Regions from separate parts of the Homo sapiens genome. Here region 2 is linked to region 1. A link means that fine-mapping ties the variant in region 1 to the expression of a gene that starts in the linked region. Tissue or cell type: monocytes. Region 1 holds a variant in brackets; the other region holds the start of a gene. All regions are shown on one strand. Distances are between the middles of the regions.

What was found. PIP is the estimated chance that this variant, and not a neighbour inherited with it, causes the effect.
Region 2: it holds the start of BLM, and the variant in region 1 is fine-mapped to the expression of BLM in monocytes (Fairfax 2014, PIP 0.95).

Annotation. Positions count from the first base shown.
Region 1 is chr15:90,820,121-90,828,223 of GRCh38, forward strand. No RefSeq gene overlaps it. Among named protein-coding and RNA genes, the nearest start is that of FURIN, 44 kb to the right of the region's middle. RefSeq lists an enhancer at 5,465-6,064. The variant C/G (reference allele first, on the strand shown) is at 3,921.
Region 2 is chr15:90,712,746-90,720,848 of GRCh38, forward strand. BLM (BLM RecQ like helicase) reads left to right here and starts at 4,601. Exons shown (of 22, transcript NM_000057.4): 1 at 4,601-4,695. CRTC3-AS1 (CRTC3 antisense RNA 1) reads right to left here and starts at 4,395. Exons shown (of 4, transcript NR_120372.1): 1 at 4,236-4,395; 2 at 422-554.

The DNA of each region.
Region 1 (8,103 bases):
CAGTGAGAGCCAGTCTGGAATGGGCGGGACCTGGCCCCTTCCTCAGCCATGGAGTGCCCTTGGCAAGTTCTGTGGCCTCTCAGAGTCCCAGTGTCTCATCTGCACCATCAACATGCCACTTGGTCCTGGCCTCCGGGGCTGCTGCAGCATCCTTTTGGTCAGATATTCCACAAACATTTCTTAACCAGAGCAGAGCTCCAGGCATGGTTCAGCCTTCAACCAGGGCACAGGCAGGGAGGGAAACGCCCCGGGGGAAGGAGAGAGCAGTGTTGGAGTAAGTGGGGTGAGGGTGAAGACCCCAGGGCACCTGGGCCAGCAGGAGTTGGGGAGGGTGCCCAGGAGGCTGAAACGGCCAAGTGACCTCCAGGCTGACCATCCCAGTGTCCAGCCACCCCCGCTGAAGCCACCCTGTGCTCTCCTTTGTGGTCCCTCCTCACCTAGGAAGAGCAGAAAGGACACAGCACCCACCCGCGGGACCCCTTTCCTGAGCAGAAAGTGCCCTGTGCCAGCCTGGCCACCGCCTCACTGTGAGGATATGCACACTCTAGGCTGGGCCACCTGGCTGTATGAGCCCCAGCCCAGCGAGCGGCACAATGGGGATGACCCCAGCACACCTGCCAGGACCCCTGCCCCACAGGGCCTGCCACTCCCTCCACAGGCCTCAGCTTAGGGTCTGTACCTTTGCCCCAGATCTGGGTTCCAGCCCCAGGGACTTGGCACACAGCCGGTGCCTAATAACAGCTTGTTGGATGGATAGATGAGCGGATGGGCGGGTGAGTGGGTGAAGGGGCGCTGCGAAGACATCTGTCTCATTGCCTTCTCATGGGAGGATAAGATAGGAGGAGGAGACGGGGCCTCAGGCTGGCAGGGCCTTAAAATCCTGCAGCCCCACGGCCAGCACCAGGCAGTGGGGACGGAGCCCCAGGTCACTGAAGGCTCCCTTGTTACTTCTGCTGGCTTCATCTGGACAAACAGAAGCCGCTTTCCAGCTGGCTTCAGCAGTTTTCACTTAGATTTTCTTCTTTTTTTTTTTTTTTTTTGAGACAGAGTCTCACTCTGTCACCCAGGCCAGAATGCAGTGGCGTGGTGGCATGATCTTGGCTCACTGCAACCTCCGCCTCCTGGGTTCAAGTGATTCTCCTGCCAGGTAGCTGGGATTACAGGCGTGCACCACCACATCTGGCTAATTTTTGTATTTTTAGTAGAGACAGGGTTTCACCATGGGGGCCAGGCTGGTCTCACACTCCCCACCTCAGGTGATCTGCCCGCCTCAGCCTCCCAAAGTGCTGGGATTACAGACGGGAGTCACCATGCCCAGCCTAGGTTTTCTTTTCCTTTCTGTTTTTTATTTTCGTTGCTGTTGTTGTTGTTTGAGATAGTCTTGCTCTGTGGCCCAAGCTGGAGTGCAATGGTGGGATTCTGGCTCACTGCAACCCCCGCCTCCTGGGTTCAAGCAATTCTCCTGCCTCAGCCTCTCGAGTAGCTGGGACTACAGGCGCGGGCCACCACACCCGGCTAATTTTTTGTATTTTTAGTAGAGATGGGTTTTCACCATGTTGGCCAGGCTGGTCTTGAACTCCTGACCTCTCAGGTGATCCACCCGCCTCGGCCTCCCCAAGTGCTGGGATTACAGGTGTGAGCCACCGTGCCTGGCCTAGGTTTTCTTTTGCTTGTGTACCAATGTTTTTGGCTGGTTGGCGTCTTGTTTGTGCTGAAATAGCAAGCCAGTTTTCCTCACTTTGGAGCTGCATTGTCTATCATGTGAAGATGTTCATAACCACCAGTGTCTGCTTCTAGCTCTTTCCTATCCTTTGTTTCTGGAGTTTACTTGTGTGTGAGGAAGGCTTTTGTGGGGACCAAGGTACATGGAGCAGTTGGGAGGTGAAAGTTTGTCACTGGGTCCTACCTGTGCAGAACGTCAGTCCCAGCCGAGAAAGCAAGGGCCAGGGCAGTAGTTCTCAAACTTGTGTTAGCCTCAGTCACCTGGAGAGCTGGTTGTGCCATGGCTTCCGATGCAGCAAGTCTGGAGTGCGCCCCAGAGGTGTGCATTTCCACCGGGTCTCCTGGTGGTCCCGATGCTGCCAGCCCCAGGTGAATACAAACCACAGCTGCCGAGAATTTTAGCACTGAGGTCTTGGGCAAGGCATTCTCCTCTCCTTCATCCTTGGTTTCCCATCTGCAAAAGTGAGGGAGTAGGGTGCAGTGGCTCACACCTGTAATCTCAGCACTTTGGGAGGCCAAGGTGGGAGGATCACCTGAGCCTAGGAGTCTGACACCAGCCTGGGCAACATAGCAAGACCCCGGTCTCTACAAAAAAATTTAAAAATTAGCCCAGCTGGTAATGTGCTTCTATAGTCCCAGCTACTCAGGAGGCTGAGGCAGGAGGATCTCTTGAGCCTGGGGAAGTTGAGGCTGCTGTGAGCCGTAAGCCATGACCATACCACTGCACGCCAGCTTGGGCAACAGAGTGAGACCCTGTCTCAAAAAAAAAAAGTGAGGGCATTAGACTCCGTGATGGCTGTCACCTCCATCCTCAAGTTGGACAAGACTGTCGGGGTGGGCTGGGGATCTGTGGGAGGGAGGGTGTTTGAGAATGTGGAAGTGGAACAGCCTTGCACGGGAGCTGTTTTCAGGAAAGGGACTCATGACAAAGCCAGGGTTCTAAGCCCCTTCCAACACCAAAGGGCCTCTTAGAGAGAGACTCAGAACTTAAAGGGAGACTCGGCAACCAGGAAGCAAGTAGCAAAGCATCACTCCAAGCAGGCATTTTGCAGTGTATGAGAGGCAAAGGAAACCTCCTTTAAAACTCTGGAAACAAGCATAAACTGATATTTCCCAGGCCCTGCCAGCCTGGGAGTCAAATGAGGTCATGTTACCACCCAAATCTGCCTGAGAACAGAGTCCTGTCTCCCTGCCGGGCCAGGCAAATGCCACTTCAAGATACAGTCCGTTGAGAACCCCTAGACTGGGACCTTAAGCTGCAACGTGTGATGAAGGCTTTCTAGAAAAATGCAATTGCAGGGTTGGTCTAGAGCCCGCTTTTCTTGCCTGGGCCCCAGCAGGATCCAGTGGCCTGAGCGGGGAACAGATTCAAGTCCCAGAACAGGATGGGGGACAGCCTCACCTACCAATTTCCTTTCCATTCTTTTTTTTTTTTTTTTTTTTTGGAGACAGGCTTTCGCTCTGTCACCCAGGCTGGAGTGCAATGGCGCGACCTTGGCTCACTGCAACCCCTGCCTCCTGGGTTCAAGCGATTCATGTACCTCAGCCTTCCAAGTAGCTGGGACTACAGGTGCCAGCCACCACGCCCAGCTAATTTTTGTATTTTTAGTAGCGACAGAGTTTCACCATGTTGGCCAGGCTGGTCTTGAACTCCTCACCTCAGGTGATCTGCCCGCCTCAGCATCCCAAAGTGCTGGGATTACAAGCATGAGCCACCATGCCAGGCCTGCAATTTCTTAGACTATTGAATGGCCCTGGAGTCAGATTGCTTGGGGTCAAAGGCCACTTTTACCACCTGCTGTGTGACCTTCAGCCCTTGAGCAAGTTATTTAACTTCTCTGTGCCTCAGGGAGCTCATAACAGCACTATACTGTGGGGTGGTGCCAGATCTGTCTCATAGACCCTGGCCAACGGATGAAATGAGTTCTCAGACACAGGCATACAGCATAAGAGCAGCTGGGTGACTGCCTGGCTCAAGTGGCCAGAGAGCAGCCCCAAGAAGCTGGAGCTGCTTGCTTTTATTCAGTGCAGGCACAATGTGGAAAACCTGGAGCCGACACGACCTGCAGGTAACTGACAATTACTGTGGCCAGGCACGGTGGCTCACGCCTCTAATCCCAGCACTTTGGAAGGTCAAGGCAGGTGGATCATGAGGTCAGGAGTTCAAGACCAGCCTGGCCAAGATGGTGAAACCCCGT[C/G]TCTACCAAAAATACAAAAATTAGCTGGGAGTGGTGGCACGCACCTGTAATCCCAGCTACTCGGGAGGCTGAGGCAGGAGAATTGCTTGAATCCTGCCGGGGTAGAGGTTGCAGTGAGCAGAGACAGTGATACTGCACTTAAGCCTGGGTGACAGAGTGAGACTCTATCTCAAAAAAAAAAAAAAGGTATTGTTCCCCTTTCAGGGAACCTCACACCCGCATGATCAAAGGTCAGTTCCTGGACAACATAAACAAACAAGCCTTTTAAGATAAATTCCCCCACACTCCCTTGTACCTACTCCTTGCCCTCTGCCTCAGGGTTATAGAACAGCTGCCTTCAGTTATTCTCCCCCAGGGCTCTGCAAAACCTTCTGACCTTTCGGAAGGTTTGCATCCTTTCCCTATAGTTTTTCCCACCACTCTGACAGATCCCCCACAGGGTCGACTGGGGGATTATGAAGACTAATAGGATAATGCCTGCTCAGCCCATAACGGAGTGTCTGGATCTCAGTGAAGGTTATTGTACTGTAATACGTAGACACTATATGTACTCATTGTTTGCCGCATATATTTGTGCAGAAGTTGATTGGTGAATAAACAGGACATCGTTTTCACTCAGTGGGTCTCAGCCATTCTCAAACTAATCCTTTTATGGAATCAGTCTCAAAAAAAGAAGCCTTCTTCAGGCATGGCTACACCCAGCTATCCAATCATAATGTAAGCATCCAGGTTTTGGAGCTCTAGAAATTGGCAGAACAGGTAGACAACACCCCATAATATAGGTCTCAATCCAGGCTCTAGGAACCCCTGGAAAATCCTGAAATAGATGTCAGAGGGTATCTAAACCCCTCAAGTGCATGTATTATTCTTGTGTGTCTCTGCAGATTTCTGGGAAAGGGACCACCATCTTTCTCAGGTTGTCAAAGGAGCCAGCAACCCCCGAAAGTTGTAAGATTCTGCCTCAGGGAAGATGATGCAGGCCTCAGCAGGTGCCCTCAACAGCACAGACACTCCCAGGGACACCCCGGGCACCCCAGGCACCAAAGCACTGGGGCAAAGATGAGAGTGGCTCACTCCACATCTCCTTTGCTGAGAGCCAAGCCCTCTCCAAAGCCAAGAGAAAACAACAAAATCGGACGGCAGTGCACACTCAGAAGCATGAAACCCTGGCGAGGAAGCATCATTACAATTAGCCGTGACGACAGGCTGCCTATGATCTTAGGACGCACAGTGGTTCTGCGTCATCACAGACAGCAAGGGGTTCAGGAGGCGGCCGGTCGGCAGCGGACAGGACATGGTGAGAGGTGACAGCGTGCTGGCAGCCCTTGCAGCCCTCGCTCGCTCTCGGTGCCTCCTCGGCCTTGGCGCCCACTCTGGCCGTGCTTGAGGAGCCCTTCAGCCCACCGCTGCACTGTGGGAGCCCCTTTCTGGGCTGGCCAAGGCCGGAGCCGGCTCCCTCAGCTTGCTGGGAGGTGTGGAGGGAGAGGTGCGGGCTGCGCGCGGCGCTTGCGGGCCAACGCAAGTTCCTGGTGGGCGTGGACTCGGCTGGCCCAGCACTCGGAGAGGCCGGCCGGCCAGCCCGCAAGCCCGGGGCAGTGAGGGGCTTAGCACCTGGGCCAGCATTTGCTGTGCTCGATTTCTCGCCAGGCCTTAGCTGCTTCCCCGCAGGGCAGGGCTTGGGACCTGCAGCCCGCCATGCCTGAGCCTCCTCCCCCTCCCCACCGTGGGCTCCTGCGAGGCCCGAGCCTCCCAGACGAGCGCTGCTCCCTGCTCCATGGCGCCCAGTCCCATTGACCGCCCAAGGGCTGAGGAGTGTGGGCGTACAGCGCGGGACTGGCAAGCAGCTCCACCTGAGGCCCCGTGGGGGATCCACTGGGTGAAGCCAGCTGGGCTCCTGAGTCTGGTGGGGACTTGGAGAATCTTTATGTCTAGCTAAGGGGTTGTAAATGCACCAATCAGCACTCTGTATCTAGCTGAAGGTTTGTAAACACACCAATCGGCACCCTCTGCCTAGCTCAGGGTTTGTGAATGCACCAGTCGGCACTCTGTATCTAGTTAATCTGGTGGGGACTTGGAGAATCTTTATGTCTAGCTAAGGGATTGTGAATGCACCAATTGGCACTCTGTATCTAGCTCAAGGTTTGTAAATGCACCAATCAGCACTCTATATCTAGCTCAGGGTTTGTAAATACACCAATGGACACTCTGTATCTAGCTAATCTAGTGGGGACGTGGAGAACTTTTGTGTCTAGCTCAGGGATTGTAAACGCACCAATCAGCACCCTGTCAAAACGGACCAATCAGCTCTCTGTAAAATGGACCAATCAGCAGGATGCGGGTGGGGCCAGATAAAAGAATAAAAGCGGGCTGCCGAAGCCAGCCGTGGTTGCCTTACACACTATGCAAGCTTTGCTGTTTGCAGTAAAACTGGCTGCTGCTTGCTCTTTGGGTCCACACTGACTTTATGAGCTGTAGCACTCACCATGAAGGTTTGTAGCTTTACTCTTGAAGCCAGTGAGATTAAAAACCCACCGGGAGGAACAAACAACTCCAGTACGCGCCGCCTTAGGAGCTGTAACACTCACGGCGAAGGTCTGCAGCTTCACTCCTGAGCCAGCCGCACCACGAACCTATCAGAAGGAAGAAACTCCGAACACATCCGAACGTCAGGAACAAACTCCGGCCACGCCGCCTTTAAGAACTGTAGAACTCGCTACAGCACTCACCGTGAAGGTCTGCGATTTCATTCTTGAAGTCAGTGAGACCAAGAACCCACCAAGTCCGGACACAATGGGACCTGTATGCAGTCTATGGGGCAGTTCAGACCAAAGGGCTGGGCGTGGCACCACAGCTGCCCCGAGCCCTTGGCCTCTCTGAGCTTTTCTCTCTCACCTGAGAAATGGGATTTCAAGGAAAATGAGTAGCGGTAACTTACCCACCTTACTCCACGGTTACTGTGAAGCGCCCAGAAGAGAAGCCATGGATGTGGGCGACGCATTCGAGGTTAGCTTCAGAAGCAGCGGGCGCTGGGTAGCCACATTGACACCCGGTACTAGCGCTTCCTCCTGGGGGTTCCTGGGTCCAAGGGGGTTGTGGCAGTCCTTGCCACAGAGATGCAGAGTCTGCAATGTCCAAATGTGCTTCGTGTGCAGTGGGAGCCTGGCAAGCTGTAACCCTTGTCGTGATTCACGCGTCCCAGGGACACTTGGGGGCCGCTGTGGGCAACCCCCCACACCCCGCTTTTGGTCAGGGCTGTGCCAGCAGAAGGCTGGGGCTGGACAATAGAGGGGATGTTGGGGCCGGGTGGGAGGCGGGAAAGGAGAAGGAGGGAAGTTTAGCAAGGAAAGAGCAGAAACGTCCCAGAGAAATTAAATTTCAGTTTTGTGGTGAACAGCTGGATCCTTTTTCCCATATCCTCACCAAAAAATTCCAATACTATCTTTGTCACCTTGTGTCATGGATCTATTTTGAGCTCTCTCGCGGTTCCTGAGCTCCTGTGTTTAGAGTGCACCAGGCTCTGCCTTCCGGGTTCAAGTCATTTTTTTTTTTGAGATGGAGTCTCGCTCTGTCGTCCCAGGCTGGAGTGCAGTGGCATGATATCGGCTCACTGCAACCTCCGCCTCCCGGGTTCAAGTGATTCTCCTGCCTCAGCCTCTCAAGTAGCTGGGATTACAGGTGCACGCCACCACGCCTGGCTGATTTTTGTATTTTTAGTAGAGGTGGGGGTTTCACTGTGTTGTCCAGGCTGGTCTCAAACTCCTGGCCTCAAATGATCCACCCAGCTAGGCCTCCTAAAGTGCTGGGATTACAGGTGTGAGCCACCGCGCCCGGCCTTGCGATTTTTGTATCTCAGCTCAGCTCTTCACACGAATTCATCCTCACAACCGCAGGGGATTCGGAGGGGTCCAGTAATTTTTCCCTTTTCACAGCCAAAGCAGCTGAATCACCAAGGCCATGAAACGAATGAGGATCTGCCTGATGTTCACCAGGCTGGCCCCTCCAGATCACTGCAAAGTGGGGCAAGATGAGAACAGCGCCAGGGGTTGATGACACCCAGGGCGCCCCAGCAGGACATCCTGGCCCAACTGCCCTCCAGGGTCCCGGTCAGAGGGCCAAGCTTTGCTGCTAGTCATGGCCCAAGTAGCCTGTAGCTTCTTCCCCGGATGGATGTGGGATCCTCCCA
Region 2 (8,103 bases), 110 kb before region 1:
CCTGCCTCAGCCTCCCGAGTAGCTGGGACTACAGGCGTGTGCCATGACACCTGGCTAATTTTTGTATTTTTAGTAGAGACGGCGTTTCACCATGTTAGCCACGATGGTCTCAATGTCCTGACCTCGTGATCTGCCTGCCTCGGCCTCCCAAAGTGCTGGGATTACAGGCATGAGCCACCGCGCCTGGCCAAAACACATCATTGTTAAATAACTCCTCAGGCTACCCTTCTCTATGGGAAAATGCAGAGTAAATCAACAGATTTTTAATAGCAAAATGGCCAAGGAAAAAGCAGGATAGAGACAACGCAAAGATACAAACAATCTACCAAATGAATAAAGCCACTAATGTTACTTAGGCTCAAACAGTATCCCCCAAAGTGAGAGGCTGGATACTCACAACTCGATAAAGGGTGACATTCACCTGATATTGTTGCTGTCTCACATGGCCTTAATCATCTTATTGCTTTTGTCTTCACTGTTCTTCAATTTTGTGCCCTTCTCTAGTGCCAGCCATTGTGGTAGGCCCTGAAGAACACCCTCATGGAGAGCATATTCTGTAGAGGAAGACAGGCACACTAATAGTATCAACACAACCAATACAAATGCTGACTGCTGTTATGGGAAAACCTAGGAGGGATACACAGGCAGATTTGGAGGATTAGGTAAGGCTTTCCAACTTCCCAACTTCTCCAACAACTTGCAGAGAAGTTGTCCTGAGACCTGAGAGATGAATGAGAGGTATGATTTGGAGGCAAAGGCCAGGAAACTGGAAAGACTATAAAACACCTTGAGGAAATGACAGGAAAATGGGGATGAGGGACAGATGACATATGAGAGGAAGCAGGGACTCAATCGGAGTTTGGTATTCACCTTGAAGGCAAATGGGAGCTGCTGGAAGGATTCTGTGTTTTTTTTTTTTTTGAGACAGATTCTCACTGCTGCCCAGGGTGGAGTGCAGTGGTGTGATCTCAGCTCACTGCAACCTTTACCTCCCACCTGGAAGGTAGATGTTAGCGTAGGGTGGTGAAAGGCTTGTGCACTCATCTTAATCTTAAATATATACCTTGGCCAGGCAAGGAGGCTCACGGCTGTAATCCCAGCACTTTTGGAGGCTGAGGCTGGCAGATCGCCTAAGGCCAGGAGTTTGAGACCAGCCTGGGCAACATGGCAAAACCCCATTTCTACTAAAAATACAAAAATTACCCAGGCGTGGTGGCATGTGCCTGTGGTCCTAGCTACTCAGGAGGCTGAGGTGGGTGAATTACTTGAGCCTGGGAGGTGGAGGTTGCACTGAGCCAAGATGGCACCACTGCATTCCAGTCTGGGCAACAGAGGCAGACCCTGTCTCAAAAAATAAAAATAAATTTTAAAAAATTGAAAAAATACATATCTCAATGATTGTATGTATATAATGATTTTATATATAAATGATTTATATATTACTTTATCTATATTAAATGTCTATATAAGACAGATATGTAATTTCCAGCACTCCATAAGATTTCCTTGGGAGCTTCCTCATCTACCTCTGCCTCCAGGGGTAACCTGGTATGCACTATATACTCTTTTTCTCTTTTTTTTTTGAGATGGAGTCTTGCTCTGTCGCCCAGGCTGGAGTGCAGTGGCGTGATCTCGGCTCACTGCAAGCTCCGCCTCCCAGGTTCACACCATTCTCCTGCCTCAGCCTCCTGAGTAGCTGGGACTACAGGCGTCCGCCACCATGCCTGACTGATTTTTTTGTATTTTTTAGTAGAGACAGGGTTTCACCGTGTTAGCCAGGATGGTCTCAAATCTCCTGACCTCGTGATCCACCCACCTCGGCCTCCCAAAGTGCTGGGATTACAGGCGTGAGCCACTGCGCCCGGCCCTATATACTCTTTTATCTACCTCTTTTTGTGCTCAGCATAGTGTCTGAGCTTCATCTATATTGTATGTACCAGTAGTTCATCCTCCTATTACTTTGTAATACAGAAAAAAACTGAGAAAAGCTTTGAAATGGTCTAAAACAGATTACTGGGGCCAGGCATGGTGGCTCAAGCCTGTAATCCCAGTACTTTGGGAGGCCAAGGCAGGCAGATCACCTGAGGTCAGAAGTTCATGACCAGCCTGGACCACATGGTGAAACCCCATCTCTACTAAAAATACAATAAATTAGCCAGGCGTGGTGGCACGTACCTGTAGTCCCAGCTGCTCGGGAAGCTGGGGCAGGAAAATCGCTTGAACCTGGGAAGTGGAGGTTGCAGTGAGCTGAGATCACACCACTGTACTCCAGTCTGGGTGACAGAGCAAGACTCCATCTAAGACAAACAACAAAAAAATGATTACTGGGTGTCATTGAAAAACAAGGTGCCCAGCTGTCCAGCTTACTTTTCTAGGATGTCTGATTCTATGAAGACTCTAAACCTTTCACTGTCTTTGAGCTACAGAACAACTATACAAACTATAGACACTTCTTGTCTATAGAAATGCAAATTGTGGCCGGGCACGGTGGCTCATGCCTGTAATCCTAACACTTTGGGAGGCCAAGACAGGCGGATCACCTGAGGTCAGGAGTTCGAGACCAGCCTGGCCAACACGGTGAAACCCTGTCTCTACTAAAATACAAAAAGCTAGCTGGGCATGATGGCGGGTGCCTGTAATCCCAGCTACTCGGGAGGCTGAGACGGGAGACTCTATTGAACCTGGGAGATGGTGGTTGCGGTGAGCCGAGCTTGCGCCACTGCACTCCAGCCTGGGCGGCTGAGTGAGACTCCGTCTCAAAAAAAAAAAAAAAAAAAGAAATGCAAATTGTTTTCAGTAGAATGCAATTGATTACTAAGCTGTGGATTTCATCAGTTCTGCCAGTTTTTGTATATATTTGTAGTTATTTCATTATTCCTCATTTGACTATGTGTGTGGTACTTTGAATTTTCCATTGAAGCAGTTGTAATCTTTCTGGATATCTCATTCATTAATGAGTTAAATAAAATCTCTAACATTTATTTTATATCTGTATTATATTTGATATTAAAATTATTCTTCAACAGTAGTATACAGTTATATGAATAAGCTGCAATTTATCTATTCATCTATTGGTGGACATCTGGGTTTTTTCCCTTTGGCTATTATGAATAAAGCTGCTATGAGTCTTTTGGTGAATAAAGGCATTCATTTTTTGGGGTAAATATCTAGAAATGGGATTTCTGGGGTATAGGGTAGGGGTAAATTTGATTTCAGTAGAGACTGATGTTTCCAAAGTGGTTGTACCATTTTACACTCCCATCAACACTGTATGAGAGTCCCATTTCTGCATCTTTGCAACTAAGGGAATTGTCAGTCTTTTCATTTCAGCTATTCTATGGAGTGTTTAATAGTATCATATTTTGGTTTCAATTTACCATAGAAGATTTTCAGGAGGGAGGTAACTTGAACAGATTTTTACATTTTAGAAAACTCTTTCTGCGTATTATGTGGAGAATGATTATTTGTATACCAAAGTTCATAGCAGCATTATTCACAATAGCCAAAAGGTGGGAATAACCAAGCATCCATTTATATGGATGAATGGATAAACAAAATGTAGTATACATGTATAATGGAATATTATTTAGCCTCAAGAAGGAAGAAATTCTGATACATGCTACAACATAGATGCTCCTTGAAGACATTATGCTAAGTGAAATAAGCCAATCAGAAAAGAGCAATTATTGTATGATTCAATTTATATGCGGTACCTCGCACTTACAGACAGAAAGTGCAATATCGGCTATAAGGGGTTGTGAGAAACGGGTAACGGGGAGTTACTGTGTAACAGGCAGATTTTCTATTTGGGATAATGAAAAAGTTCTGGAGATGGATAGTGGTGATGGTTTCACAACAATGTGAATGTACTTAATGCCAGTGAACTGTACACTTAAAAATGGTGAATTTTATGTTAGATAGATTTTATCACACACACAAAGAGGAGGGAGGGCGGGAGGGAAGGAGAGAGGGAAGGAAGTAGAGAGGGGAGAAGAGAGGAAGAAAGGAAAGAAAGTAAGATCTGGCATCACAGGGCCCACATTCCCGCGTGTCAGCAATAGGCTGAAACAGAAGCATGGTTTCTCACGTGTCCATGGAGGCATCTGAGTGTGTGCCCACTTTCCCGGTTCAATGACAATTTGCACCTGCTCGTGTAGAGGGGTACGGGTGAAACAGAGACCAGTATTATTAAGGGGATGGAGAGGAGAGACCGCCAAAACATCGCAGAGACACACCGTCGGAACCAAGAGAATGGGGTGCAGACGCCTGGCTTGGCCTGTGGGAACTGGCAAGTCTCAGCTCTCAAACGCCCGGGCTTTTCAACCCGCCACAGCCGGGTTCCAGCTGCCTACTTCCTTTAAAGCCTTCACCGACTCTAAAACACCAAAAACAAAGACCCAACTAGCTCCGGAAGCCCGAGATGTAACCGTAGTCATCTGACCCTCCCGTCCGGACTCTGATTGGGCTTTGGAGATACGCGTCCCTCCCGGCGCTGTACGGCGACCCCGCCCCAGCAGCCTGAGGGGGCGGGAACAGATGTCCGAGTGCGACAGTATTGGTCGGCTTCCCCAGGAAGCAGCCAATCGGAATAGGCAAGCTTCCGGCGGGAAGTGAGCCAGGGCTTGGCGCGGCGGCCGTGGTTGCGGCGCGGGAAGTTTGGATCCTGGTTCCGTCCGCTAGGAGTCTGCGTGCGAGGTGAGTACCGCGCGCGTAACTACGGGTCGGTCCGCATTGATCTAGCCCTGCTCTGGCGGCCCGGCCCGGAGCTGGAGGCCGCTCGGGTTCTTCCGTTTCCTGCACTGGTTCGCCTCGGCCCGCTGAGTCCTCTAGTCTGGCCAACATCCTGGGAGGACAGCAGATACATAAATACGTTCCCAAATGGGGAAACAGAGGCCCGGGGCGGGGGCGAACTCTGCCAAGGTCTCCCGGGGCGTCGGAGGCCGAGCATGGGCTAGGACCTGGCATGTTGTTGCCCATATACTCCAGTGCGTAACATGATGCCCTGCACAGAGTAATCCCAGCCCAGACCTCTGGCACTACTACCTCCGTGTCCCTCCTGAGGAACAACGAAAACACTTTGTACTTTTTCTGTGGCCTTCCATAATCACGAGCTGGGCTACTCTTGTTTTTGAGTGTCTACTGTGTGCCATGTTCCTGGCACCCTTGATCTTACAACTGTAGCTTTACGATATCCCAGCAAAGCGAAGTGCTTAAGAATACTGCATCAGATTGCTTGGGTTCGAATTCTGGCTCCTTCACATTTAGCTCTGTGTCTACTGCACGTTACTGAAACACTAAGTGTCTTGGTTTTCGTCTGTCATATGGGGGAAATGGTCTCTTCTACTTCCTGGCGTTTTTGTTAGGATTAAACGACTTAATATATGCAATAATAAATGCTTCGAAGGCTACCTGTTACATAGTACACAGTAAGGGTTCTGTTATCATTACCCAGAGAAGCGGATGAAATTGTCCCCATTTTAGACATGGAGAATCTGAAGTACAAAGAGGTTGTCTCCGTACAGAAAGAGCATTTGGTGATTAAGTGCTAGAGATACAGGATTTGAACTAAGCGCCTGATTTTAAAGTATGTCCCACAACATTAGGCTTTCTCCTATAGCCCTCACCTGTCCTTAGGTCACACAGAACTTTAGGTACCTCATGGCGTGAGATGGAGCAGGTGACTGACAGCTCCTTGTGCCACCCATGCAGATAAATAACACTGGTGTGTCACTGTCAAGATTAAGGGACAGGAATTCGAGAGACTGCATGAGAGATCAGAAGATGAAGAAGCGGGTAGGCAAAAGTATTCTGTTTGGGGAATAGTAAATAGAATTAATTAAATCAACATTTTGTTAGCTGGGCTGCTTATACTGTCAGACAGTAGCTTATAATCTACTGGGAAGAAATGAAATTTCTGGGTCCTGTGTCACTTTCAATGCCACTCACCATGACAGGTACCTTATAAGTATAGTTTACAGTCCTATCAGTAACCTGGAGAAGTAGTTATTTCCTTCGTTTTACTGAGGAAACCAAGAGTTAAAAAATCAGGAAAAGTGTTAGATGTGCAGTAGAACATCATCATGCTGGGAAGTTCTACACATCCGCTTCAGGACAGGTGGTATTACCTATGAGCAGGAAGGGAAGGGAAAAAGGTAAGGGGAATGAGTGATAGTTTATTGTTTTGATTTTTAAATTTTTATCTGTTTTTTCCTTTTTCATAGTCATTCCTGGAATGAGTGAGTTTGTTTTTGTTTTTGTTTTTGGGGGATGGAGTCTCGCTCTGTCGCCCAGGCTGGAGTGCAGTGGCGCGATCTTGGCTCACTGCAAGCTCCGCCTCCCGGGTTCATGCCATTCTCCTGCCTCAGCCTCCCAAATAGCTGGGACTACAGGCACCCACCACCACGCCCAGCTAATTTTTTGTATTTTTAGTAGAGACGGGGTTTCACTGTGTTAGCCAGGATGGTCTCGATCTCCTGACCTCGTGATCCGCCTGCCTCCGCCTCCCAAGGTGCTGGGATTACAGGCGAGCCACCGCGCCCGGCCATGAGTGAGATTTTAAATATATCTGAAATGAGGCCAGGCACAGTGGCTCACACCCATAATCCCAGCACTTTGGGAGGATGAGGCGGGCGAATCACCTGAGGCCAGGAGTTCGAGACTTGCCTCACCAACATGGCGAAACTCCCTCTCTATAGTAAATACAAAATTATCTGGGCGTGGTGGTGTGCGCCTGTGGTTCTAGCTACTGGGGAGGCTGAGGCACGAGAATCGCTTGAACCCAGGAGGCTGCAGTTAGTCAAGATTGCACCACTGCACTCCAGCCTGGGTGACAGAGTGAGAGTCCGTCAGTCAATCTACCTGAAATGTTTTATGCCTTTAAAAGAGAGAGAATAGGGCCGAGTTTAACTTTTTAAATTTGGTTGGTGGGTACATGGGTGTAATTCTATTTTCTGTATCTTTATGTAAGAAATATTAAAAATTAAAAGATATACATATATATTTTAATTTACATATATATGTGTTTTTTTCTAAGAGAAAAATGGATAGAATAAAGAGGTCCAAGATAATCGTAGAATAATCCTAGGACTTCAGTGCTGAAAGCCCCTAAGGGTCTCCACTACCTGTAGGATAAAATCTAAACTCCTTGGCATGATACCAGAGGCTTTTGAGCATTCTGTATCGCTAACACATACTATTCTACCTCAGCCTTTGTACCACTAGTTCATAGACTACTCTTCTTCACAACCTCAGTCCTGTCTGTAAAGTTCCACTTGTCCTTCAATATCCAATTCAGTGTTCTTTGAAAAGCTTCTCTATCATTTGCCTGTTTTTCCTTAATCTGGGAAGCCATAGTCTTTTAAGAAAAGACTTGATTGTCAGACTTATCTCGTTGCATTGTAATTATTTGTTGACATGTCTATTTTCTGCTAGTCTATAAGCTCCTTGAAGGCAGTAATAATGTCTTTCCCATCTCTGTACTTCAGTGCCTACCATGATGCCTGGCACAGAGTAGTCACTGTAGATATTAGCTGAATGAAAAATACAAGTTGAAGACAGAGAGTGAAAGTTCTTGGAGTTATGACATATGGACTTTGTTCTCTGGAATGACAGGGAACTATTGAGTTTACTTTCTTTAAAAATTCCCGTATTTTATTGAAACATATTCTCAATGTCAAGAAAAATATTCCAGTCATAATCCTATCTTTCAAACACTTGAACTATTTTTATTTTCCATGAGTCCTTTCCAAATTTCAGCTATAAAATTAGTTATACAGATTTAGCTATACAGATTTCTTAGGTAGCTGTAGCCTTAATGTATTCATAACTTAGTGTTTTTCTTTTTTCTTTCTTTTTAAACCTGACACTTGAGGAATTTTTTTTTTCTTTTCTTTTTTTTTGAGATAGGGCTCACTGCAGCTCCAGCCTCCCGGGCTCAAGTGATCCTCCCACCTCAGCTGGGAGTACAGGGGTGTACCACCATGCCTGGCTAATTCTTGTATTTGTTGTAGAGATGGGCTTTTGATTTTTTGTAGAGATAGGGTCTCGCCGTGTTGTTCAGGCTGATCTCGAACTCGTAGGCTCAAGCAGTTTGCCCACGGAGTG